Regions from separate parts of the Homo sapiens genome. Here regions 1, 3, 4, 5 and 6 are each linked to region 2. The links come from fine-mapping of genetic effects on gene expression. A gene starts in region 2. Each other region holds a variant in brackets. All regions are shown on one strand. Distances are between the middles of the regions. Region 1 overlaps MIR646HG (MIR646 host gene). Region 2 holds the start of MIR646HG (MIR646 host gene). Region 3 overlaps MIR646HG (MIR646 host gene). Region 4 overlaps MIR646HG (MIR646 host gene). Region 5 has its middle 40 kb from the start of EDN3. Region 6 has its middle 29 kb from the start of LINC02910.

Evidence for each region. PIP is the estimated chance that this variant, and not a neighbour inherited with it, causes the effect.
Region 1: its variant is the best candidate, but not a certain one, in a credible set for the expression of MIR646HG in whole blood (GTEx, PIP 0.61).
Region 3: its variant is the best candidate, but not a certain one, in a credible set for the expression of MIR646HG in whole blood (TOPMed, PIP 0.86).
Region 4: its variant is the best candidate, but not a certain one, in a credible set for the expression of MIR646HG in whole blood (INTERVAL, PIP 0.86).
Region 5: its variant is the best candidate, but not a certain one, in a credible set for the expression of MIR646HG in esophagus muscle (GTEx, PIP 0.89).
Region 6: its variant is the best candidate, but not a certain one, in a credible set for the expression of MIR646HG in lung (TOPMed, PIP 0.55).

What each region holds. Positions count from the first base shown.
Region 1 is chr20:60,260,240-60,264,328 of GRCh38, reverse strand. The region is part of intron 3 of MIR646HG (MIR646 host gene); the gene reads right to left. All of the region lies in intron 1 of LOC105372698 (a long non-coding RNA gene), which reads right to left. Among named protein-coding and RNA genes, the nearest start is that of MIR646, 46 kb to the left of the region's middle. The variant C/G (reference allele first, on the strand shown) is at 2,143.
Region 2 is chr20:60,136,547-60,140,635 of GRCh38, reverse strand. MIR646HG (MIR646 host gene) reads right to left here and starts at 2,144. Exons shown (of 5, transcript NR_046099.1): 1 at 1,992-2,144.
Region 3 is chr20:60,311,693-60,315,781 of GRCh38, reverse strand. All of the region lies in intron 3 of MIR646HG (MIR646 host gene), which reads right to left. Among named protein-coding and RNA genes, the nearest start is that of MIR646, 5.3 kb to the right of the region's middle. The variant G/A (reference allele first, on the strand shown) is at 2,389.
Region 4 is chr20:60,297,117-60,301,205 of GRCh38, reverse strand. All of the region lies in intron 3 of MIR646HG (MIR646 host gene), which reads right to left. Among named protein-coding and RNA genes, the nearest start is that of MIR646, 9.3 kb to the left of the region's middle. The variant G/A (reference allele first, on the strand shown) is at 1,887.
Region 5 is chr20:59,338,166-59,342,254 of GRCh38, reverse strand. No RefSeq gene overlaps it. Among named protein-coding and RNA genes, the nearest start is that of EDN3, 40 kb to the right of the region's middle. The variant C/T (reference allele first, on the strand shown) is at 2,538.
Region 6 is chr20:60,082,455-60,086,543 of GRCh38, reverse strand. No RefSeq gene overlaps it. Among named protein-coding and RNA genes, the nearest start is that of LINC02910, 29 kb to the right of the region's middle. The variant G/A (reference allele first, on the strand shown) is at 2,406.

The DNA.
Region 1 (4,089 bases), 120 kb before region 2:
ATCTGTGGATGGGAGCGAGCACATGAATAATTCATTCTCCCCACCTTCCGTATGGGCCCCTCCCGGGCCTGGGAGGCCAGACTGCTGGGCTGAGCTGCGCTGTGGCAGGGTATGTGTGGGGGAGGCATGCTAACATCTTGGCTCTCCCCGTTTTGCAAACAGTGCAAAGCTTCGCGTGGAACTTGCTATGCAAAAGCAACTGCATTTCAACCTTTTTGCTTTTCTGCAGAGCATATTTAATTTCTGCATTGCTGTGGACAGTAATCAGTAATGAAGTCATTAAATGCAAGAGGGGTGGAGAGAGAACTGTCTGCCAACCTCCCCCATTAAATTCAGGTACTTTGGCACATCTCTAATTAAGATCAGGAGGCTTGGGTTCCAATTGACAAAGCTCTTCATTCCCCTGATACTTAGTCAAGAGCGCTCGAGGGCAGAGCTAATACAGCGAGCAGGGTAATGGTTGGATAATTCCAATAAAAATTTCGAGTTATACTAGATTCTAGAGGTTAACTGGTACTACCCAGAGAAGGAGGCCATTTCTGGAGGTGTTGCCAGGTCTCTTCCAGACCTACAGAAAGATGTGATATTCATGAGACCGTGGCTGAGCAGTTTGCCTAGAGTCTATGGGGGCCACCTTTAGAACCCTCAGACTCAGGACCTTCTCTTATTAAACTAATGGTGCCTCCCTCTGAGCACCCGAGATCTGCAGTGTCAAATACTCCCAACTGGATTCACCCTGGGGAGAAATAAGGGGATGTATCATGTCTATGGAAAAGACCAGTGGCCAGGTAATTCCTGGGGAAATTATATTGTTTTATTTTCCACTCATTTAGATATTTAAAGAAAACATTTTGACATTTGCTGGTTATTCCAGCTTTCCCCCAAGGAACCAGGCTTGAATGCATTAATCCTAGATTTATATTTAAGAAACCCACATCTGATGTGTGAGTGTGGGGAGTGGACAGAGGGGTAGGAGAGGGCTTACAATGTTTTGACTACTGTATCTTTAAGGATTCCTTTCTATTTAGATGACTGGAAACAGAGACGAGCCCAGAGAGAAGGAGGTAGACAGAGGAGGGGAATGGGATTCACCTTTAGTGATGTTTGTGAAGTGCAGGAAAGCTCCCCATCCACCAGGGGTCGCTCTCCGAGACAGGCTCATTTTCCATCCAGAGGTGTCCTGCCTCCATGGCCAGCGAGCAGGCTTACCTGCCCACCTGTAACAGGTAGACACCTACCCAGGTGAGGACTTAATGGATTGTGAAGACCAAAAGAGCTGCAGCCACCAAATATTCAGGTTTGTTCTGTCTCCTTGCTCTGTCCATTTCCAAAAGGCCAATCACTAAGTCACCAAAAAGCCTCCAGAGACTTTGTAAATTGTCTTTCCATATGGTTTTCAGTGATGGCCAAGTTGGAAGTCATTTGCCTGCAGTAGATGCCAATCTACAGTGTTAATTTGGGAGCTGGCAGCTCTACCTCTGCCCCACTGGATAATCCAATAACAGAACCCAATAAAACTTCTATTTGAGCTGCAAACTCTAGTTAGGTCAAGTGGCCTTAAAAATCTCTATTAAGCCATATCCCTGGATTCAATGAAGCTCTCATATTCACACTAGTTTCTTTTCTTTTCCTTGTTTTTTTTTTTTTCTTTTTTTTTTGACAGAGTCTCGCTCTGTAGCCCAGGCTGAAGTGCAGTGGCGTGATCTTGGCTCACTGCAACCTCCACCTCCTGGGTCCCGGTTAAGCAATTCTCCTGCCTCAGCCTCCTGAGTAGCTGGGATTACAGGTGCATACCACCATGCCCAGCTAATTTTTGCATTTTTAATAGAGACAGGATCTCACCATGTTGGCCAGGCTGGTCTTGAACTCCTGACCTCGTGATCCACCCACCTCGGCCTCCCAAAGTGCTGGGATTGCCATTAGCCATCTTTTTAATGCACAGTTCTTAAAAGTTATTTCACTAAGGACTTCTTATACCTCTGCATCTTGAAGAGCATGGCCTGATTAAAAAAAAGTTTATAAAAATAACATTATCAGATCTACAAGTCTTATTTATTACTGAAAACAATTCATTAAAATAGTCTGTGATGGTTATAAATAATTGAAGCCATAAAGAAACATTTAGACTAAAAAGTAAGAGCT[C/G]TTCTTCCCCACCACACTCCCACCCTAGTCCTGCCCCATGTCCCTGGGGAGGGGGGCGGCTATTAAGAGTTTGTTCTACAAGTTTTTAGAGCAAAGTTGGAAAAGTTATACTTTTGTCACAATGAAAGAAGTAACCTTAATAAGACATTTTAAAATTTAATAAAGTAACCAAGAAAGCAAGTAATAAAGCAAGAGAAAGAAAATCTTGATAAAATTATCCCAAAGAACATGACCACAGCAGGAATTAATCTAAAACTAACAAAGGCAGGCGCAGAAATGACAGTACACAGCCCCTCTCTGGCAAGTGCTAATGAATGTGCACCGTAAGAAACAATAGATAACGGCGTCCTCAAGAAGCATTGGTATGTTAAATAGAGAGTTAGATGAGAATCTTGTCGTGGGGAAATAAAGATTATGGAGATAGAAGAAGAAAATAAAAGAAATGAACAGGAAACAAATAAAATGGACTAGGTGGGTGGCTTTTGACCATCCTAAAAACTTAGTTCTCCGTGTTTTTAGTGACTGCTGGATTTGCAAGGAATTGCTTTTTTTTTTTTTTTTTTTTTTCCGGCATTATTTCCAAGAAGAAGTCTCTTGGGCAATAGCAACCACATCCTTTATCTAATGGCAGAGATGGGTGAAGCTCAGCTCTTCTGCCAGAAGCAACAGTTGCAGGCCGGTACTTTACATGCATTTCCTTCTACCTCCTAACACCTGTTGGTCAACAGAAACAAGTCCCTGAGAAATCCAGGAAGGATCTAAACACACAAGACTTTTTAGATGCCCTCACCTCGTGATGCCCAACAAACTAATATCAGTCAGGAGAAGGAACTTGGAGCCAGGTAGATTTTGGTTCAAACCCCAGCTACACCACTCAATAGCTGTGTAATATTTAACAGTTTACTTAAACTCTATGATACATAAGTTACACACACATTCACACTCACAAAGGTGGGAGGATTCCACCAATAGGATTTCACAAATAGCTATTTAATTCATAGAGAACTAAGGATTAAATAGATATTTGTGAAAAGTGCCTAGAACATAAAAAACAGTCAAGAAGTAGTGGTGAATACAGTCAACAAAAATTGAGATACATGAAAATGAAATTGAAAGAAGAGACCCATAAAAGAAAATCCCAAATGCTTTTCTCTCCTTGCCCTCGGCATTGATGGATCCTGAAGGGACAATCTGGCTTTCCCGCAGCAATATTGCTAAGCACAGTGAGTCCCTTCTCAGCGCTGAGCATTGGTTGAGCTCCTGCTGTGTGCCAGGCCCTGTCATCAGCACTCTACGTGCCTTTCCTCCAATCCTCTGAAGCTGATGCTTTTCATCAACTCCACTGTACCAAAAAGAAAGCCAAGGATAAGAGAGGTTAATTTTCACAAGTCCACACTGCTCATATGTAGTGGGTGAGTTCTTGAACTCAGGTTTTGGAGTGGTAGGGCTCAAATGCTTCACCAGAATCACATCCCGACACCCACATGTCCTTACTCCATCCCAGGAGCCTGCCGGCACTGGAGCTTCCTCCTCCTCTGCAGTGAGGCACCCTTCCTTTAGTGCCCTCGGCCGTGCCTGGCACACACAACCAGGCCGAATAAACCACCAGGCTGCCCTCTGAGACCCACCCAGCTTCCAGTGCACCTTCCCCAACTCCCGTCTCAATCACGTCACCTCTGCAGGAAGACTTCCTTGACTCCATCTGGGGAACAGCTCTCCGCACACTGACTGCTGGTTTCCTTGCTGATTTTCCTCCTCATACAATTACTGTGATTTATTTGTCTGCTTGCTTGGTTTGGTCTATCCTTCGCACAGAACTGTCTCTGAGGAGGGTGGGCACCTGGGGCTCTTGTTCACTGGCACACAGTAAAGATTATGAAGTGGATAGAGGACCATCAGCTGCAGACTGCCTAGGCACCGTCCTGATGTATCTGTCTTCCTTGCTTC
Region 2 (4,089 bases):
AACGGCCCACGTTCCACAGAACAGGCCAGGGGCTCAGATGTTTATCATAGACACAGAATCAATCTCCGGGTTGGCCACTCCTGGATTCCCTAGCACAGAACACACATTTAGGCGCATCTGCCATACAGGGTCATTCTAAGGGTATGCTTATTACTATCAGGTGCATTTACCCTACATTCCCCCCTCATGAACATTAAAATGTTGAGGTTTCTTGATGGAAATTTTTTGTCCATTCGTAATTTTGGTTTAATCATTGTTAGTTTTTGATCAAGCTCTGTGGGGCCTCTGTGGCATGTACAGTGCTGTGCTGGACAAGGCAGGGGACTAACAGAGTAACACACGTCCCCATCCCCTGCAGAGCCGGAGCCCTGCCCAGGAGAGAGAGAGGGTGTAGACAGCCTCATGACGATGCAGAATGGGGAACAACTGTGTCATAGCAAAGGACCACGCATGATGTTAGGGGTGTTTAAAGGGCAGAAAAGAAGTCTGTTCCAAGAGTCAGGGACCAGGGAGGCTTCACACAGGAGCTGGACACCAGAGCAGCTTCTGCTAGGGCCTCCTGGGAGACATAGTGATCTGGCCTCTCCAGGAGAATGCAATGTCCCACCTGACAACCATGCAAAGAAATGAATGGTGAAACAGACAGCAGGTCCCCTTTGCCTATTACACTAGCATTAAAATGTAGTGGACATACCTAGTGCTGGCAACAGTGTGATGAAATTGGCATTCTCATCTATTTCTGGAAGCATCTGGCAAACTGCCTACTGGGAAGATAAGCTTTTGGAAATCATCAGTCAACACGCGTGAAGCGCTATTGTCGATGTTTGTGTCATCGGCCCAGCAATCAGACATGTGGAAATCTGTCCTAACGGATGTTGTTGTTAGCAAAAGAAAAACAATATTCTCCACTGGGTTCATTTCCCAACAGCTGGAAGCAATACAGGCATCAGAGAATGGCCACCTGAATGAATACTAACTGCTCAGTGTTGAGTAGCCCTTAAAATAATTTTTCTGAAGAAATTCAGCCACCTGCAAACAAAAATCTTAAGGTATGTTAAATTAAAAATCATGTCTCAGAATTTTACTGAGGACAATTGCAAATACTCAACAAGTAATAAACCTTGGGCAAAGATACTGGAAGGAATTACAAAATAATAGTGCTATCATTAAGATGGTGTGGTTGGTTGTGGTTTTTATTACATATTTTCCCTGCTTTTCAAATGCGCTAAGATGTTCTTACAGATAACAGTTGGAGAATGCAAAATATTAGAGAGAGAGAAATGAGAATGAAAGGTCACCTCCTTATCGTTGAAGTGGTAATAAAAGTAGTCACAGGACCTTCTCATTGCCAGCAGCACTAGCCCTCATGTGAACTTTATTTTCATTCTTTTCTGTTGCTGAAAATTGGTATCCAAGGGCAGTTAAGTCTCAGGGGCATGGCTTGACCTCAGGCTGACCTCAGCCCAGCACCAGGCTGGATTTCTGAAGCTAAGCAACAGGTTCTGAGGTAGGTCAGAGAGGGTGGTCACAGCCTCACTTAAAGGAGAGCAAACTTGCTAAATAGATGGCGAGAACAAGCCACCTGCGGTGCACAAGCCGCATCCCAGGCTCGTGGTTAGACCATCCTTTAGCGAGGAGGTCAAAGAGCGAAGGAAAAATCCGCGAATTCATCCAAGTGCAGAAACCCAAGATGAGTGTCCTTGGGCTGACCTGCGCTCATTAGAATACTAAAGAACTGGGTGGAGATTTACGATGCTAACGAGACATGCGATGTGTGTACTAGCATGCACAACCACAGCACATGTGCCACCAGGAGACAGCCCAGAACATGCTTCACGGCAACACCCCTTCCCAGCCCTTCATGAATAATCATGTAAGACCCCCATAAAGGGGGTTTCCCCAGTGTCGGCCAGCACTGCCTCGCCTTTGAGCGGCCGCTCCGATCCGCTGGCAGAGTGCGCTTTCGCTGTGCGATCAACTCCCTTGCTTACCTTTACTTTGGACGTGCTCTCAAGTTCTTTTGTGTGGCGAAGTCAAGACCCTGAACCGGTCCACCAGCAACAGTTCTTTCGGAGTCCCTCAACCACAGGCCCTGAAAGCCGCTGAGTTAAGTCTTTAAACTGCGGGAGAGCCTGGGAGCATCTGAAACGCAAAAGGACTCCCAGTGGATAGGGAGGCAGCACCCTGACCGGAACCGGAAGAGGTTTGCCGGTGAGCCTGAGTCTCCACACACAGTGATCCGGGCACCCGGGCTGCCGTGTGGCAGGTGAAACCGCGTGTGGTGTGGATGTTTCTCCAGCTGTGTTCTGTCGAGCCCCTAAAAGTCTGGCCTGCATTGGAAGGGCCTCCCCAGTGTCCTCGTTTCTGTTCAAACAGAAAAGTTCTTATTTTCTGTATTTGTGGTTTTTGCTTCCTCATATAATTTCGGTTGCACAAAGCTAAAAAATATTTGAAAACCTCTACTTAATCGTATAACTAAATGCAACATTATCTTTTGCTTATTTAATAACTATTTTAATATTTATTTTCTATTTATATTAATAGTGATAATAAAAATATAGCTTGGAGTGAGAGAAAAGCTTTCCTCTCTGTTAACTATCACTGTATCATTTAACTACCACTAGCTATTCCTCACAACGGTTTCTAAAGTGTAAGCACCTGCCACCTCATTAGCCTCTAAGCTCCACAGTGCCAGGGACTCTTTGCCTTAGTCTCTGCTATGTGCTCAGAATACCCAGCACATACTAGGTTTGAACAAAATGCATTTTGGAGAGTGGATGCTGCTGCCACCTGGTGACAGCATACCCACATTTCATGCTTAGCACTTTGATTACTTAATGAAATTCATGAGGAATGGAATCAGAAAACCTAAGACATGCATCTGTGTGATAGCAATCTCACTTTCCTCACTTAGCTTTTTCTGTTTCCCTACTCTGCACAGATTGGAGACATCTGAGTTTTCTCTGCCCCCATCACCTGCACCTGCCCTGGTGGCATGCACTTGCACCTCCTCTGTCTGGTATTAGGTTGGTGCAAAAGTAATTTCTGTTTTTGCCATTACAACTGCATAAACTGCGATTACTTTTGCACCAACCTAATAATAGGGCTTGCCCCTCCAGAGGATAGAATCTTTGCTTGTCACCTTAGAACTTCTCACACAGAGCACTGCATTCATCAAACCCTGGTCTCAGCCATCCTCGGGGCACATGGAAGGTCATGCCCATAAATCAATGCCTCAGCCAACATCTGGTCTCCCCTTCTGCCATTCCCTGTGTCCCTGCCCTGGCACCAGGCATTTGCAGGTGCAGGGGGCAACATCATTTAGTTAGCTTCATCTGGGCAGGGAGGAGCATTATTAAACATGAGAGATAGCTGTTGGCTCATGGAAAAGATTAGTTTTAAGCTATTTAAGGCAAAGCAATAAAGGATGTGGTTTCCTCCTCTGACATGCTTCCTAATTTGTAGATTCATATGACATCACACTGGATTACAAAGCCACATTACTCTGATTGGTAATATTATGCTATCCTAATTCAGTTTGTATAATTATTTAATTTTTTAGGACTGCTCTCAAATATTAACATTGTGTTCGGTAGAGGCCAGAAAAAATTGGGAACATGCATCCACACACGTGGAGAAGCTTAATTGCTAGAATAATGCAGGGCAATTATTGTAATGAGAACAAAGCCTCATGTCTGGCATACACATGTGACTGTGTCCAGCCCAACTTCCACTGAAGTGACAGTCACTGGACTCGAAGCTCCTCAAGGACAGGGGCTGTGTCGCCTTCACAGACATGACTCATTGCCGGTGCTCAATCAGGGTTGAGCTGACTTGACTTGAAGCCAAATAAGGACAAAGAAAGGTCAGGCAGTCCTGAAAAAGCCAAGGGTCTGAGAGACAACACTCGCTGTTGTCCTCGCTGTTTAATTCTCTGAGGTCCATTAGGAAGTAGGTAGGAGCCATGTCATCATGGCCACTTGGGCCAATCGTCTGCACAGATGGGGAAGGCATCTGCCCCCACAGTGAACACTAGGCTTATCTGCCTCCTAAATCTCTCTCCAGGCTAACTTCCATGGTTATTCAAAT
Region 3 (4,089 bases), 180 kb before region 2:
GGGGTCCAAGGTCAAAAAGCCAAAGGGCCAGGCTGAGGCATCATCGGTAGAGGTGTGAGTACCTGGGGCAGGTGTCAGGAGGGGAAGGAGTCAGGGGTAATCACATCAGGGACACAGGAGCTGGCTCTGGTGGATGTCGCCAGATTATGAAGGGGAAATCTGGGAACACAGCACTCATAAGAACAATGACCAAATCCAGCTCCTCAGTACGTCTGGGGCATGTGGGCAAGGTGGGCAGGGAAGGCCTCGTGTGCTGTGGCCCTCCCCACTCTCCAGCCTTATTTCTTGCCTTTTTCCCCTTACTCTGCATATTCCTAGCCACAAGGACCTCCTCCCAGTTCCTTGAATTCTACACTCCCTCCTGCCACAGGCCCTTCGCTCAGGCCACCCTCTTTTCCAAGAACACTGGTTCTTTCTCTCCACTCTCAAAGCAACCATCACCCCTCCAGGAAGCCTTCTCTGCCCTCTCCTTCCCCAAGACTATCCCAAATTCTACTATTAGCTACTCTTATAGCCCCAGGTACCACACCTCCTTGGGGCTTATTCCTGTTGAAATTTTACACACATTGATATATTTTTTAAAAATTATCTGTTGTTCCTATTAGATTTATGCTCCTTAAAGACAGGAATGAAACACATCTAGTTTTGTTCAACACAGAATCTATGTAACTGGCCTGAAATCAATATATTCTTTTTTTCATTTTTGGAGATGGTTTCTCTCTCTGTCACTTAAGCTGTAGTGCAGTGGCACAATTATAACTCACGGCAGCCTTGAACTCCTGGTCTCCTGCAGGATGGATGGATGGATCAATGGAAGGATGGATGGCAGGATGGATGGATGAATGGATGGGAAGATGGATGGATGAATGGATGGGAAGATGGATGGGAGGACGGAGAAATGGATGTATGGATAGATGGCAGGACAGATGTACACATGGGACGATGGATGGGAGGATGGGAGGATGGGAGGATGGATGGATGGATGGATGGATGGATGGGAGGATGGGAGGATGGGAGGATGGATGGATAGATGGATGGGAGGATGGATGGATGGGAGGGTGGATGGATGGAAGGGTGGGTGGATGGATGGATGGAAGGGTGGATGGATGGGAGGATGGATGGATGGGAGGGTGGATGGATGGATGGATGGATAGGAGGATGGATGGGAGGATGGATGAATGGGAGAATGGATGGATGGATAGATCGATCGATGGATGGATGCGAAGATCGATGTGAGGATGGATGGGAGGATGGTTGGGTGGATGGATGGGAGGATGCATGGGAGGATGAATGGGAGGATGGATGGGTGGAAGGAAGGAAGGAAGGAAGGAAGGAAGAAGGAAGGAAGGAAGGAAGGAAGGAAGGACAAATGGATGGGAAGATAGATTATGGGAGGATGGATGGATGGATGGATAGCAGGATGGGTAGGAGGACAGATGGATGGATTTTCAATCCTTCCACCTCAGCCTCCTGAGTAGCTGGAAGTACAGGTGTGCACCACCATCCTTGGCTAAGAAATGAATATTGTTAATGAATAAATGAGGAAACAAGTGAATGTAGAACTCAGACCTCAGAGGAGATAAAGATAACTAGACCCTGCAATGGCAGAAGGGCAGGTAGTGGATGACAGAAAAGTGCCTGAAATCTCCCTATGAGAATCACTGTAATCCCAGATTTCAGGATTTCAGACCTCTACTGAACACCCCCCACCCCCATCACTTAGACTATAACAACTTTGCTGAATTTGAGACAACTAAGTTGTACATCCAGGTATTTTATCCATAAACCATCAGGTAATGCAATACTTGTACTGAGCTCACCTGGGCAAATTGCTTTGAATATAAAAAGTCAGCATCAAAATGCAGCACGTGTGACCTCCCCACTCCTGAGAACTCACTTGATCACATTCCAGGCAGGTTTCTTCCAGCGCTATGTGGCTGGGACAACACGTAAGCTGAAGCTGCAGAGCAGCACCACTGCTGCTCAGCTGATGTCCTCATCCCACTCAGGCCACCAGGAGACGCCCCATGTCTCAACACACAGACCAATAACTCTAGGTAAGAGCTCTCTAGCCAGCGTCTGGCCCCTGTTCCACCTAAGAGGCTGCCAGGACTGAGCATCAGGAAACAGATGACCTGGTTCCTTCTCATTATTATTAATGTGGCTTGCACATCCTGAACGCTGAAGTCTTTTGGCTTGTTTCAGGCACCCACATGTATTTGCCAAATGACTTATTTTGCTTTAGATTTTTCAGGGCACAAGTGTAGAGGCTGCCTCCGTTGGATGGCATGCCCGTGGCTACAAACTTCTCCACGATACCAGGGCTAAGGGTAACTTGATAGGAGGAAAATGAAATCCCACCCAGCCCTGATGCCAGCACATTCCTTC[G/A]CTTACAAGCGGGCCAGATGCTCAGGGCTTCTCCATGAGTTACGGTGGCCTGAGAGTCTTCATTGTCAACCCTTTCAGCAGGGCCTGTGATGCGGGAAAGGGATTTAGTGGGTTAGTGGCTTCCGCACATCATCAGCTCTTCCCTCCATTGGCTACATCCCACGTACTTACAACATATTCATAATCACTTCAATTCCCAAACTTCAACCCTGCTCTTTCCTCCCAATACAACCCTTGACTTCTCCTCTTCACCTCCAAAATTCTCAAAAAATGTATCCTCCCCTTGCTACCTCAATTCTTTCTGTTCATACCTTCATCACTCTTTATATCTTTGCCTTGACTCTCAGTGGACTCACACAGAGGCCCACCAGAAGACCACCTGCAACTCCCTGTTGTCTACAGCCAATGTCCTCTCCCCCACCATTGTCCTCCTTGACCTTCAAAGCATTCAGTCCAAGAGCACAGCTTACTCATCACTGCCTGTACTTCATATCACACCTAGCACCTAGGGAGTACAAAATATGTGTTGACTGAGAGAATGATTAAGCAAAGGAGTAAATACATATACAGATAAGAATTTCCAACCCAAGGTCCTGGCTCAATTTCTTCTGTCTAATGTAGACTAGAGAAGACTTTAGCATCTCTTTTCCTTAAGGAAAATTTTTTAAATGTCTTTATACTTTTACTCATGGTTCCCTGAAAAAAAGATGTGAAAAGGGACAGCTCCGAGGTCATCTTTATGAAAGTTAATTCTGACCTGGTACAAAGCACTAGGATTTTTCACATTTAATTCTATAGGAAATTTACTCTAACTGAAGTTTACTTTAAGAAAATACATTATAGGGAAAATTGGAAAGACAGATTATGAGATATTTTCAGGGCCATCAGAGTGACAGATGCCCCTTTCTAAAGAGGTTATAAGCCTAATGTGTGAGCAAACTTGATCAGGACACCCACTCTTCATTCACCCATCTATCCATTTATTTAAGAATGATTTGTCAGGGGCTTACCCTGTGCCAGGTACTGTGAGCAAGACGGTGAGAACTCCTACCTGGATCCTCATAGGTAGAACCCCAGTGGACAATATAAAGAAATAAAATGCATAATACATTTGGTGTGACCACAGCTAAAGGGGAAAGCAGAGTGGAGAAGAGAGTGGGTGCAGGGCGTGCGATGGTGAATAGGGTGCCCAGAAATGCCCTTACTGAGAAGATGACATTGGACCTGAAAGAAGACAGGGCAGAGGGCAAGTCAAAAGCCTCACTGGCTGGTGGTAGGACCAAGCTCTGTCTCGTTCTCCCAGGTACAGGTGTTGTGTGTTTGTAGCCCCTGAGCTTTGGTCCTCACTAGTCAAATCTCTCCTGCCTCCTGCTGCCTCCCCTTCCTGGATAACTGCGGCGGCATCTCTGGGCAGCTCTCTCTCTAGTTTACGTGGGTGCTAGGCTCCTGCCTGAAGATCAGCTGGGGCACAGCCACCCTGCATAGTCCTTGTCTCCTTCCCATGGATGATGGATCCTGCTCCCCTATGCTCTGCCACAGGCAGAGAACTGAGCTAAACAGACTGACCACAAAGGATCATGGAGGGACCCATTTGACTTTGGTCTCACTTTCTTTGTTTGCAGAAACTTCTCAGACAAAAGGCCCCAGGCCCCTTTGCTGCATCCATTTATACATTTTGCCCTCCATCACTCAGTTCTCCAC
Region 4 (4,089 bases), 160 kb before region 2:
AACTATATTATACATAATTTTATATATAATATGTATATATTATATAATTTTACGTATGTATTATATATAACACATATGCATAATATATAATACATACATATATTTTATATGTATGTATTATATATTTATAATTATGTTATATATAATTATATAAAATTATATAATTATATAGCTATATATGTATAAATATATATAAATTATATATAATTATGTAATATATAACATATATTAGATATAATTTATATCTAATATATGTTATATATATAAGTAATTTGCTTGTTTCCTAGAGGAATAAATGTTCACTTCTCTTCTATACTTTTTTGTTCTCTCAACATCTAATGCTGGGGTGCTGATCATGTACCAGGCATGGCTGAGACCTTTCCACACGGCTGTCTCATAGGTAGAAACTGTCACTGGTGTTCCAGTTTACAGACCAAGACATGGATGGAGCTTGGAGCCACCCTGAGCTCTTAGGGGTGCCCTCTTCTTCCTGACCACAAACATTCTCAGCCCACACCCTCTTACCCAATACAACAGGAGACACTGCTAAAGATGATGCATCTTAAATACTGTAACATAAAACAGTTAAACATGCCTGCAGGTGTAGATTTACCAACCTTTGAGAAACAAAACCAAACAAAAAGATAAACCCTTTGCCCTCTGCTGTGGGCCTCGCATGCGCCACACCCATGAAACCACCTCCAGTTTGTTTATCCTGGCGAGAGAACATGAAGAGAATTTGAAGCAGCAGCAGGTATAGCCATCAGCTGGAATTTTGACTTATTTTTCCCTCAGTGCTTTATTGCTGTTTCACAGAAAAAAAAATTTGAAGAAAGTTTTAGTACCTTGCCTTGTTTGAGTCTTTCCAAAAATTCAACCTTTATTTATAGAAGCGACGGCCTTCTTATTTGCACTCAGATGTTCATTTTTTTATGTAATATTTAATTGCAGGGTGTATTTACACTAGCAAGTACGACTGGAGTAAACAGGTTTGGGAACAAATATAACCAACTCTCGGGAAGCACACGACTGCACAGTGTGGACGGTGCTGGGTGGCCCGGTGCTGGGGTGCAAGGTGTGAGTGAGCTCGGGGAAGTGATGGCACAGAAGCTGCAGGGCCCATACAGGGCGAGTGCGGCGGCCACTCTGGAGTCTGTGCCGTGGGCCAGTGGAGAAAGCTGCAGGGCTGGTTCTTGGGTGACTGACCAGGAGAAACCACACAGGAGCAGATCTTGAGATGTTTTTCACTGGTGTTAATCTGAGCCCAGCATGGAGTGATAAGGTCCCAGTACAGCAGGTGGGCCATTGTAAAAGGCTGCTCGGAGTATGTGGCTTTCCTGCTCCAAACACGTAGCCCACACTCCTCAGTACCTATGGGCCCTCCAGGATCCTGCCTGCTTGTTTGCTCCTACAGCCTCCTCTTATGCTCCCCAGGCTGCCCACTGGGCGCCAACCTCCCTGGGGTCACATAGTTACAGACACACCTGCTATCTGCTGCCTCCAGGGCTTTGCCTAAACTCAATATCCTACAACACCCAGGCAGCTCCCACAGCAAACAGGAATCCAGTACCACTTGCCAATGGAAACCTCTTCCTCTCTCCAGGTCAATGGAAACCTCTTCCTCTCTCCAGGTGATACTCATCCTTTAGCCCTCGGCTTCCTCCGACCCCACAACCTACAGTGGAGTTTCTTCATGGACCCTACAGCCTCCTGCCCCCAAATGTCACCCCCTTGCAAGCAGTGTGACTGCCTGTCACTTCACCATCCTGTCCTCTGATTCGTGAGTAGCTCATTAAGTGCGGGGCTGGGCCTGTTCAGGGTGCCTGGCACACACAAGACCCTTGAAAGGGTGTGTGTTCCTTGAAAGCATGAGAAGCACTGGGCGA[G/A]GGGTGAATGAGCAGACTTTAGAAACACAGGTCAGGAGCCCGCACCCTGCATTCCTGGTCCCCCGGCAGCCGAGCATGTGTATGGCCAGTGCAGTGAATCTGTGGATGCAGAAATGATAGCATCACAGAATGAGGCTCTGGTCCATCCTCAAAGCAGCTCCACCAGGGCTTGCGGGTGAGGAGCTCCAGGTGGAAAATGAGAGGCGAGCTGTGTTTTTACTAAAGAGCAGGAGCCCCCAAGGATCCTCTGCACTGTGAAGAGGTCAGGTTCCAATCAGTGCTGTGTTTAGGAATCTCGGGAGCATGTTGGCAGGGTCAGAGCCCTGGGCTTCTCAGCAGGGAAAACACTGAACTCTCAGAACATCTGCTCCAAGGAAACTCGAAAGGCAGACACTGCAATCCCCAGCAAGAAACCACTGTTCTCGCTGTGCTGATGGGGGATGAGGCTGGAGCCCCCAGGCCTCCCCTCGGACAGGCAGCCTTACTGGTGGGAGCAGGGGCCGCCAGGCTCCCAGGCCTTTCCCCCACCTGTTGCACTGACTCTCTGTGCTCATCAGTTCAGTTTTAACCAAAAGGCCTGGAGGCTTCCCAAACCCTACCCTAGGAAATAATAATCATTACTATTATATTAATAGCAACCACCAGTATTCCTTGAGCTCTTATTGATGCCATTGTTCTAAGTGCTTTGAACAAATGACCTCAGCAGTAGGTTGAATGCTGCCCCCTCCCCGAGCCAAGAAAAGGTCTGTTCACATCCCAGCACCTGTGAATGTGACCTTATGTGGGAGAGGGTCTCTGCAGATGAAGTTAAGGGTCTGGCGATGTCATCATCGTGGATGACCTGGGTGGCCCCTACATCCAGTGACAAATGTCCTTTACAAGATCAGAGAGGAGAAGACATCAACACACAGAGGACGCGGTAATGTGAAGGCAGAGGCAGAGATGGGAGGGGGTGACTACAGCCAAGGATCTCCAGGAGCCACCAGAAGCTAGGAAAGGTGAGGAAAATCCCTCCCCCAGAGCCTCAGGAGTGAGTGTGGCCCCACCGACACGTTGACTTTGGACTTCTGGCCCCCAGAACTGTGGGAGAGTGAGTTTCTGTTGCACTAAGCCACGAAATTTTTTGTAATTTGTTACAGCAGACACAGGAAACAGTTACAATCTAACATAGCTATTTCCACAGGCATCACTAAGAAACAGCATCGGCTAAACACCTTGCAGTCATGCCATTTATTTCCAAACACCTAAATGCTGCTTTTTCAAAAGTTGATCACTTGTCAAACTTACATATCTTAAAGTATGAGAACTAAGTATTTTAAAAGAATGAGAATTTCAAATTGTGTTTACAGTGAAGTAAGTGTAAGGTTCTTTATAAAGCGGGGGCCCTCAATCGCAGGGCCACGGACGGGTACTGGGCTGCACAGCAGGAGGTGAGTGGCAGGAGAGCGGGCCATGCTTCATCTGTGTTTACAGCCACTCCCCATGGCTCACATTCCCAACTGAGCTCCACCTTCTGCCAGAACAACAGCAGCACTAGATTCTCATAGGAGCATGAACTAGAGTGCGAACTATACGTGCAAGGGATCTAGGTTGCACACTCCCTATGAGAATCTAATGCCTGACAATCTGTTACCATCTCCAATCGCCCCCAGCTAAGACCGTCTAGTTAAAGGACAACAAGCTCAGGGCTCCCACTGATTCTACATTATGGTGAGCTGTGTAGATTTCTTGATATATTACAATATAATAATAGAAATAAAGTGTACAATAAATGTAATGTGCTTGAATCATCCCAAACCATCCCCCTGCCCTGGTCCATGGAAAAAAAAAATTGTCTTCCAAGAAACCAGTCCCTGGTGCCAAAAAGGTCGGGGACCGCTGTTATAAAGTACAAACATTTTATAGAGAACAAGTAAGAGCAGCCAAAGTGGCCTGAGTTTTGCCGTGTGCGCTGGTTGAAGGAGCATGTCTGTGCAGTTTTGCCTTTGGCTTCCTGATAGCAGGTGTCCCAGAGCACCTTTTTACTCCATGCAAGCTCAACAGACCTTCTAAAAGCTGGGATGCAGAACCAGACCGCACGCCTGCCTCCACTGCTTTCCAGCCATGTGATATGTGACAAGCTACTTGGCATCTCAGCCTCCTTTTTTTTTTTTTTTTTTTTTTTTTTGAGCCGGAGTCTCGCTCTGTGGCCCAGGCTGGAGTG
Region 5 (4,089 bases), 800 kb after region 2:
GACTTTCTGAGAGAGAACTGCGCTCTGCCTAAGCCCAAGGCAGGAGTAGCCAAGCTCCCCCTGCAAAGGACACGAGAGCTGTCGCAGCCGCCAGCCATAAATCTCTCGGGAGGAGGATTTTCCTATGAGCACACAGGCGCTGCGGGAGGGCCGGGCTGGGAAAGCAGCCTCCTTCTAGGTGGCTCAGGCCCTGCATGCAGCCTCTGTCCCCTCTTGCTTGCTCAGCTATTGTTCCTGTGCCCACCTACACCCCCAGGGTGAAACCAAGTGAGGGCCTGTCACCACCACCTCAGCCTCAGTGCTTCCAAACCAGGCTTGTTCCCTAAGGCCTGCAGAGGAAGCCCCAGAGCCTGTCACATGACTGCATGAACCCCAAACTTGCTTCCCCTTTCGTCTCCTGCTGCTCACTAATGCTAAGTCCTCTCCCTTAGCAACAGACACACACATGCATGCACACACATTCATACACATGCACACTCACATGCACACACACTCACACAAGCACATACACACTCATACACTCACACATTCCTACACACCCCCTCATGCACACTCACACAAGCATGCACTCACTCATATACACTCACACAAGCACACGAAGCACATACACACTCACACACTACACATGCCTACAGTCACACCCCCATACACACATGCACACACAAGCACATACACTTATACACTCACACATGCATACCCACCCACACAGTCACACACACACTCACACAATGCACACTCACACAGCACACACTCATATACACTCACACATGCATACCCACCCACACACACATGCACACTCACAGCACACGCACACTCATACACATGCACACTCACACAGCACACACTCATATACACTCACACATGCATACCCACCCACACACACATGCACACTCACAGCACACGCACACTCATACACATGCACACTCACACAGCACACACTCATATACACTCATATAAGCACACACACATACACACAGGCCACATACAAACACACATACACTCACATGCACACACACACAAGCACACAGACTCAAACACATACACATATACTCTCACACTCATACAAGCACACACATGCATGCACACTCACACACATGCACACACAGACACACATACTCATACTCACATTCACACGCACAAACTCACACAGATGCACACACTCACACTCTCAAACACACTCCACCCCCAAATCCTAGCCATGGGACTGCATACATGCTTTCCCTCTGTCTCAACGCCCCTCCGTCTTGGGGTACACCTCCTCATCCTTTGAGGCCCTACTCAAAGGCTCCTTCCTCCAAGCAGCCTTCTCAATGCCTGCCGGGATACTGAGGCAAAAGAATGATCACAGGGAGCTTGCACCTGCTTTTAAAACCCTTATCATATCATCGAACCCTCACAAGAACTGCAGAGAAGGAAACAAGGCACAGACAGGTTGAATTACTTGCCTCAAGTCAAAAAGCCTTTTGGTTAGGAGCCAGGGTTTGCACCCAACGCCCCTCCTCTAGGCCTGCAGGCTTAATCGCCACATGTGCTGTGGTCTCTAGAATGGATTAGCCCCCTAGGGCTCTTGCAATAGCTTCTCATCTCTTAGTGCTTTGACCACGCTGCAGAAGGCTTCCTGGATGCCGCTACCCGTAGGATCAGCTTCTAGAAAGCGAGGATCAACCCCAGAGCACCAGGGCCGTGCTCCATTGGCTCTGCAAAATTGTTACCACAAGGCCCTCTTGGCTCCGGTGTCCTTCGGAGCTGTCTGAAGGACTGGCTGGAAGACTTCCTTTTCATCAGGATCCATCTCCCCAGCTGCTCCCTAGCAAACACCCTCAGTCTCCCCATGCTGGGTGCAGATGTTGTTTTGCTACACAGTGAGCTTGTCCCCACATAGCTGAACCCTGACACCCTCCCTGCTCATCAGCGTCCCATCTCTTCTCTTGCAACACACCATTCTTTGCAAAGATGACATCTCTGGGCCACCCAGTCTGACACAGGGCATGTCTCAGTAACCCAGAGAGTCCTTCTCCAGCCAGCTTGCATCCCCGTTGAGATTTGGAAAGGCCCCAAAGTGACTTATGCTCCACACAATGGGGCTGCCCATCATGATGGATGTGACATTGTTTCATAGCAGACACATGAAAAGATTGCAAGGCAGATCCCCTTCTTTTTGTCTCCTTCTCATTATTTTTATTGATAACATGTGCCTAGCACACATTATTCTAAGAACATATAATGCATTATCTCATTTAGTTCTCACAACCATCCCATGAGAAAGTGTTATCACTATCCCTACAGTGCAAATGGGGATACTGAGGCAGTGATCAAAGAACTTGCCTTGGTCATTCAGAGGAGTGGGGCCAAGTTTCCAGCCCAGAGCACTTAGGCCTCTGCAGGCAGTGCCGGCAAAGATGGTGCCATGCATGTGTGGGGTGAGGGCTGGCTCTTGCTAGTGGTGGATTAACACTGCTTCCAAATACTAAAGTCTCTTCTGAATGATCCCAGCCTGCATGTGCAACTAAAGGAGGGTTAACATTTACCAGACCTAA[C/T]TTGCTGCTCCTACCCCCACCCACATGGGTAGAATCTCTGGGGCTCCCCATGGCCATCTCGAGGAGTGCAGATAGCAGGTCCACTGGCCATCCTCTGGCCCCACCAGCCTTTTCAGGACAAGCCTCCTCCACCTTCTTCCAGAACTTCCACAAGAAAACAAATGTGCAGAGTACAGCGGTTGCTGAGAAGGTAACATGCTTGGGCCCCAGGCGCTTCTGCCTTCCTTGTCCCTCTCCTCCATAAAAAGGATTCCCAAGTCTATGTCCAGCAGCACTGGTGTAAAGAGCACATAACCCAGCTGCTTCCAAACTTGGCGTGAATGTGGTTCCTGCAGAGCCCAGGAAGGTGGCAGGGGGCTGGATGGGTCTGTTCCAGGAGTGAGCAGGGAATTCCCTCTGACCCACTGACTTCGGAGCTGGTCATGGAAGTTTTGAAATGCAATCCCTTTTTTTTAAGTATAAAATAATATATGCTCATGAGAGTGCAAAACCAAATGAACCATGACTGAAGGACATAAGAATAGGAAGAAAAAGCCTCCTACCTCCTTCACCCCAACATTGCATTTTCCAGAAGTTTCCCATACATACACACACGGTATGTCCATCTTACATTCCAGCAACTACAGTGGATCCTCCTGTGTGTGCTGGTTTGCACTGGATCCCACTCTAGGTGAAAGATAAGATGGACATTCCTTTTCTTTGGTGGATCCACTGGGACCTCTCTCCATGTTACCTTCCACGGGGTGGAGGAGGTCCTGTCTGTCTTGGTCCCTGGTGCAGTTCCGTTTTGGTCCAGGAAATATTTCCATTGAGTGGAGGGGCACAGCTCAGCCCCTGCCAACCTGCTGTGGAGTTGGAGCCTCCTCACTTGAGGCTGGGGGTGTGGGCAGCCATAAACTCATTGCCGTAAGCAGTTCTGCTACGGCAGAACCTTGTATCTTAGACACGTGCACTAGTGCGTTGGGAGGGTAAATTCCTAGAAGGCCATTGTGAAGTCAAGGGTGCACGCGCTTTTAATTTTGATGGATGTTGTCAGATTGCTGCACGTCTGAGGAGGCAGCAGATCATTGACTCTTGGTGCAGTTTCAGTTCTTTTTTCTTGGAGCTTCCTGTGTTCTTCCTGTCCAATCTTCTCAAGCCCAGAGGCACATTGCTGGTGAAGATTGAGGCCTCTGGAGCTGGCCTGGGGGGCTGTGAACCCAGCTTCTGTCCTTGCTGACTCTTCCCAGGCCTCTATGTCCTCGTCTGAAGAATGGGTGAATGTCAGTACTGACTTCAAGGGCGGATCTGAGGCCTCATGAACTCACCTCCCAGCCACCAGCATCCCCAGGTGCACATAGATCAAGGGAACAAGCTGTGGTCATGGGACATGAGTTTATTGGACTCTGGAAGGCCTGGCAGTGAGGTCTGGGGTGGCATTGCCCTTGGGGTTGTTGAGGGATGTTGGGGACAAAGTATGGCCCTTCTGAGCAGGCCACCCCTGCTGACCGTCCTCTCCTCTTTTGAAGTCCCAGAGATGAGGTGGTCCGTTTAACTACAGACAGCCAAACAG
Region 6 (4,089 bases), 54 kb after region 2:
GGATCTGGCAGAGGGACGTTCCCAAGCCCCTGAAATCAGACTTTAAAATGTGCTGTGGAGGAAGGAAAGGTGGGGACCGGAGAAAGAACATGGAACCAGGCCTGGAGCTTTTTCTGCTGGTGGCCATCCTGGGAGCTGCCCCAAAGCAGCAAGCCTAGCCCTTCGCAAAGGCTCATCCTGCAGCAATGCACCTGCCATGCCCCAGACTCTGCCATGGCTCTCACCCACAACCAGCCCTCCTTTTGTGGTAAGCATCCAAGAGCTGCATAAGACCGATATGTTCCTGAGCCCTGGACCGTGCTTGAGGTGTGCCAACAAGCATAGCTGGAATGAATTCCTATTCACAACATTAGGAAGAAAGACATGCCACATTCTTTATTTTCTTTAAGCCAAAGTTCATCTGCAAATAACCGCCACTATCCAAGAGACAGCAAATTCAACTGCATTCATTATTACTCCCCCGACCCCATGGTATCTTTAAGGGCCTGGACTCACACGTAGTGGACACCCCACAGAGATGGGGCCACGAGGGCGGGACCTCAGCCCAAGTCTTCTACTCTACATGCTGGTCCCCTGAGCTCAAGCTGTCACTCAGCTCCAGGGAAAGGGCTCAGGGCGCCCCTAGCTGCAGTCCATTCTAGTACAGAGTGACCCACAGGACCCTCTCAGCTGCTCTCCAGGCCATGGGAAATAGTGCCTAACTGCCCAACCACCCACAGCAGCTTCTCATCAGGCATGCTGCAGCCTAGCCCCATTCCTGTCCTCAGCAAGAGAGGACGCCCACTGCCATGGTGTCTGCCAATTCTTACTTTTGCAAAAGACAAGTCACTAAAACCTCCGTTTTCTAGACACAGAGGCTTAGACCTGCAAAATGAAAGCTTGGCTGCCATCCATATTGGGAGTGGAAGTAGGGAAACACCAACCAAGAGGTAAAGTCTTCTTCAGCATACGACTGTATCCAAACACCTCATATAGGGGCATCTCACCTGCCACATGCAGACACTTTTGCTCTCTGCCCCCAAATGAATCTGAAACACACTGGGAACAAGAGTGGCTCCAACAGCTGATATGCTTAGGGAGAATTTTAATCTTTTATTCATTCAACCAGAAAACATCTTCATGAGTGCCTGTGACATGCTAGGCATTGTGCAGGTACTGCGGACACACCCGTGGACAAGACAGACACAGTTCCTGTCCACGTGATGCTGTAACTATAGAAGGGAGAATAATGCCGCATAAGCATTAGGGGTGCAGTGGAAGTGAATTCCAGGCTACAGCAGGTACAACTCAGCATAGTCTGGAGTCAGGGTGTAGTGATTAAAACACAGACTAGGGAACCAAGACGCTTGCATTTGAATCTCAGCTCTTCTACCTTGCATGTAACCTTGGACAAGTTCATTTATCTCTTAGTGCCTCAGTTTCTCCATCTGCTAACTGTAGACCGTATGTTATCTATGTCATAGGGTTATTGTGAGGATTGAACAGGTTAATCTATGTAAAGGCAAGTATCTGTCACATAGCAAGAACTTTATTAATGTTTGCTTATACGGTTATTCAGGGAAGTCCCCACTGAAGAACTGAGACTGAGACATGGAAAATAAGCAAGATTTGGCTAGGCAAGAGCAGGGAAGGATGTTCTTGGCAGAAGAAACAGCATGAGTGGAGGCTGGGTGTGGGGAAGTGTGGCATTAGAGGAACTGGAAGAAGATAGGGAGGCAGGGAGCAGGATGGGAGACAGATGGAGAAATTCGTTGGGATCATACCCCAAAAAGCCTTAGGCCATGTAATGAGTTTGAACTTTGACCTCAAGAGCCATGGAGGTTTTAAGTAAAGGTTAACTAGATGTCATTCCAGCTACTACATGGAGAATGGATTAATGAAGGTGATGGCAGGAAGACCAATTAGGAGATTGCTGAAACTGCAGATGCAAGAAATGGTGTTGGCATGGTCCAAGGAGGTGTTGGTAGAGATGGAGGGAAGTGGACAAATTCAAGAGATCATGAGAAAATAGAAGAGGCAGTGCTTGGTGAATGATCTGGTATGTGGGGCAAAGGAGAATGGAAATTTAAAAATGATGCCAAGCTGTCACACTTACTTGGAAGACTGGGTAGACAGTAACACCATTCACTGGACTTCACATAAGATAAAAAATTCTTGAAGGGGACATTATCTGTCCTGTTCTGGTCATTTGGGATCCAAAGGGAGAAATTCATCAGGTAGTTGGATATGGAGATTTTGAACTGGGAGGAGTGGTCATCACAGTGCCTGAGATGCCAAAATTCTACACAGACAAGGTCCTTTATAGAGTGTATTTGGAATCAGCTCTCACTGGACCAGCTCCAGCTAAGTGCCCTGTGAAGGGCACTAGGATTTCAGAGATGAATAAACATTGTCCCTGCCGCGGG[G/A]GGTGACAATCTCATTGACCCTGCAGTCATTCTCCATCTGCCTTTATGGTACGGCATCTCTGTTCACCAAAAACACCATGGTTCAAGCCCTGTGATTTAGCCTGTAGAACGCTAAAAGACTTTCTCTACTTCCTTATTGTGACAGACAGATTCCATTAAAGCATCCACAACCCTGAAGCTCTGTTTCTCCCCCACTGCCTCCCCCCAAGAAGTAAAAGAGGATGATTATTAAAAATTACAAGTGCCACCTTCCACACTCCATCTCCCAAACTTCATTTCACAATGGCTGCTGACATCAATAATGTCAGACAGGATAATCAAGTTTGCATAATGTAACAGTTCTCCAAGGGTCCCTCTGCACAATCACCCCTCCCAGCCTGCATATAGGGAAACAGACCTTAGATTAGGCAGAAAAGGCCCTTAGACTGTCAAACACAAGAGTCCTTTCTCCACATGCGATTTTACAGGAGTTAGCCTCCATCAGAAAAGCTGACTTCTGATTCCAGTTTGACCCTTTATTGGCAGGAGGACAGGGGCAAATCATTGAATCATCCTGTGCCTCAATTTTCTCTGCTTTAAAGTGGAAATAACTCTGTAGTATTCTAAAAGAATGTCGATCTTGAATGGCATATATGTACCATGTAATTGATGAAGTTTATTAAGAATAAAAATATGGTGATAGTTCAATAAGTTACTTTGTCAACTTAATATTTGTTAACATACATTGCCAATAATTTATTTGGAAAATAACTAATATTTAGTAAAATAGAACAACAGAATTGCTGGCTTCTGGTATGTCTTAACATGAACTCCAGAAAAAATATTAAAAATTCAAAAATCAATGACACACTTGGGAAAATCGGGTTAAAATGAACAATAAATTAAAACAACTTCTTGTGGCCTCTTGGTAACTTTTACTTATAACATGTAATTATTTGCAATTTATTGCAGATAGATACGGTGGGCTGTATGCCATTTACATTCAGTTTAAGATATGAAACGCAAAAGAACACTTGATAACAAAACAATACATCTGAGAAGATCTCCACAAACTTGCCGTGTTTTTCTGAGCCAGGCTTTGACATACTGGGTGCTTCTGCCTTGCATGCCTCCCTCCACCTGCCTCCTGACTGTCCTCGTAACTACTTCCTGTTCATCCTTCCATAATCTCCTTACATATTACTTCATCTGGAAACTATGTCTGACCGTGCATGCTGTACCTCCACTGCCCAACACAGTGCATGGCACAGGGGAGTGCTTATGTACATTCCCTAAATGGATAAATGAAATGATTGAGGCAATCATAAAGCTTAACAGTTAGTGAATGGCTGAGGCTTAACGTGCATGACCAAGGCCTCAGAATCCTACTCTAAGAGCAAGCAGGAAAGGTGAACCCTTAGGACGAAGACATTATAAAATTTCCTTTGGGAGGCCGAGGTGGGTGGATTACTTGAGGTCAGGAGTTCAAGACCACCCTGGCCAACATGATGAAACCCTGTCTCTACTAAAAATACAAAAATTAGCCGGGCATGGTCGTGTGCACCTGTAGTCCCAGCTACTCAAGAGGCTGAGGTGGAGGATCGCTTGAGCCCAGGAGGCGGAAGTTGCAGTGAGCCGAAATCATGCCACTGCACTCCAGCCTGGGTGACAGAGGGAGGCACTGTCAAAATAATAATAACAATAA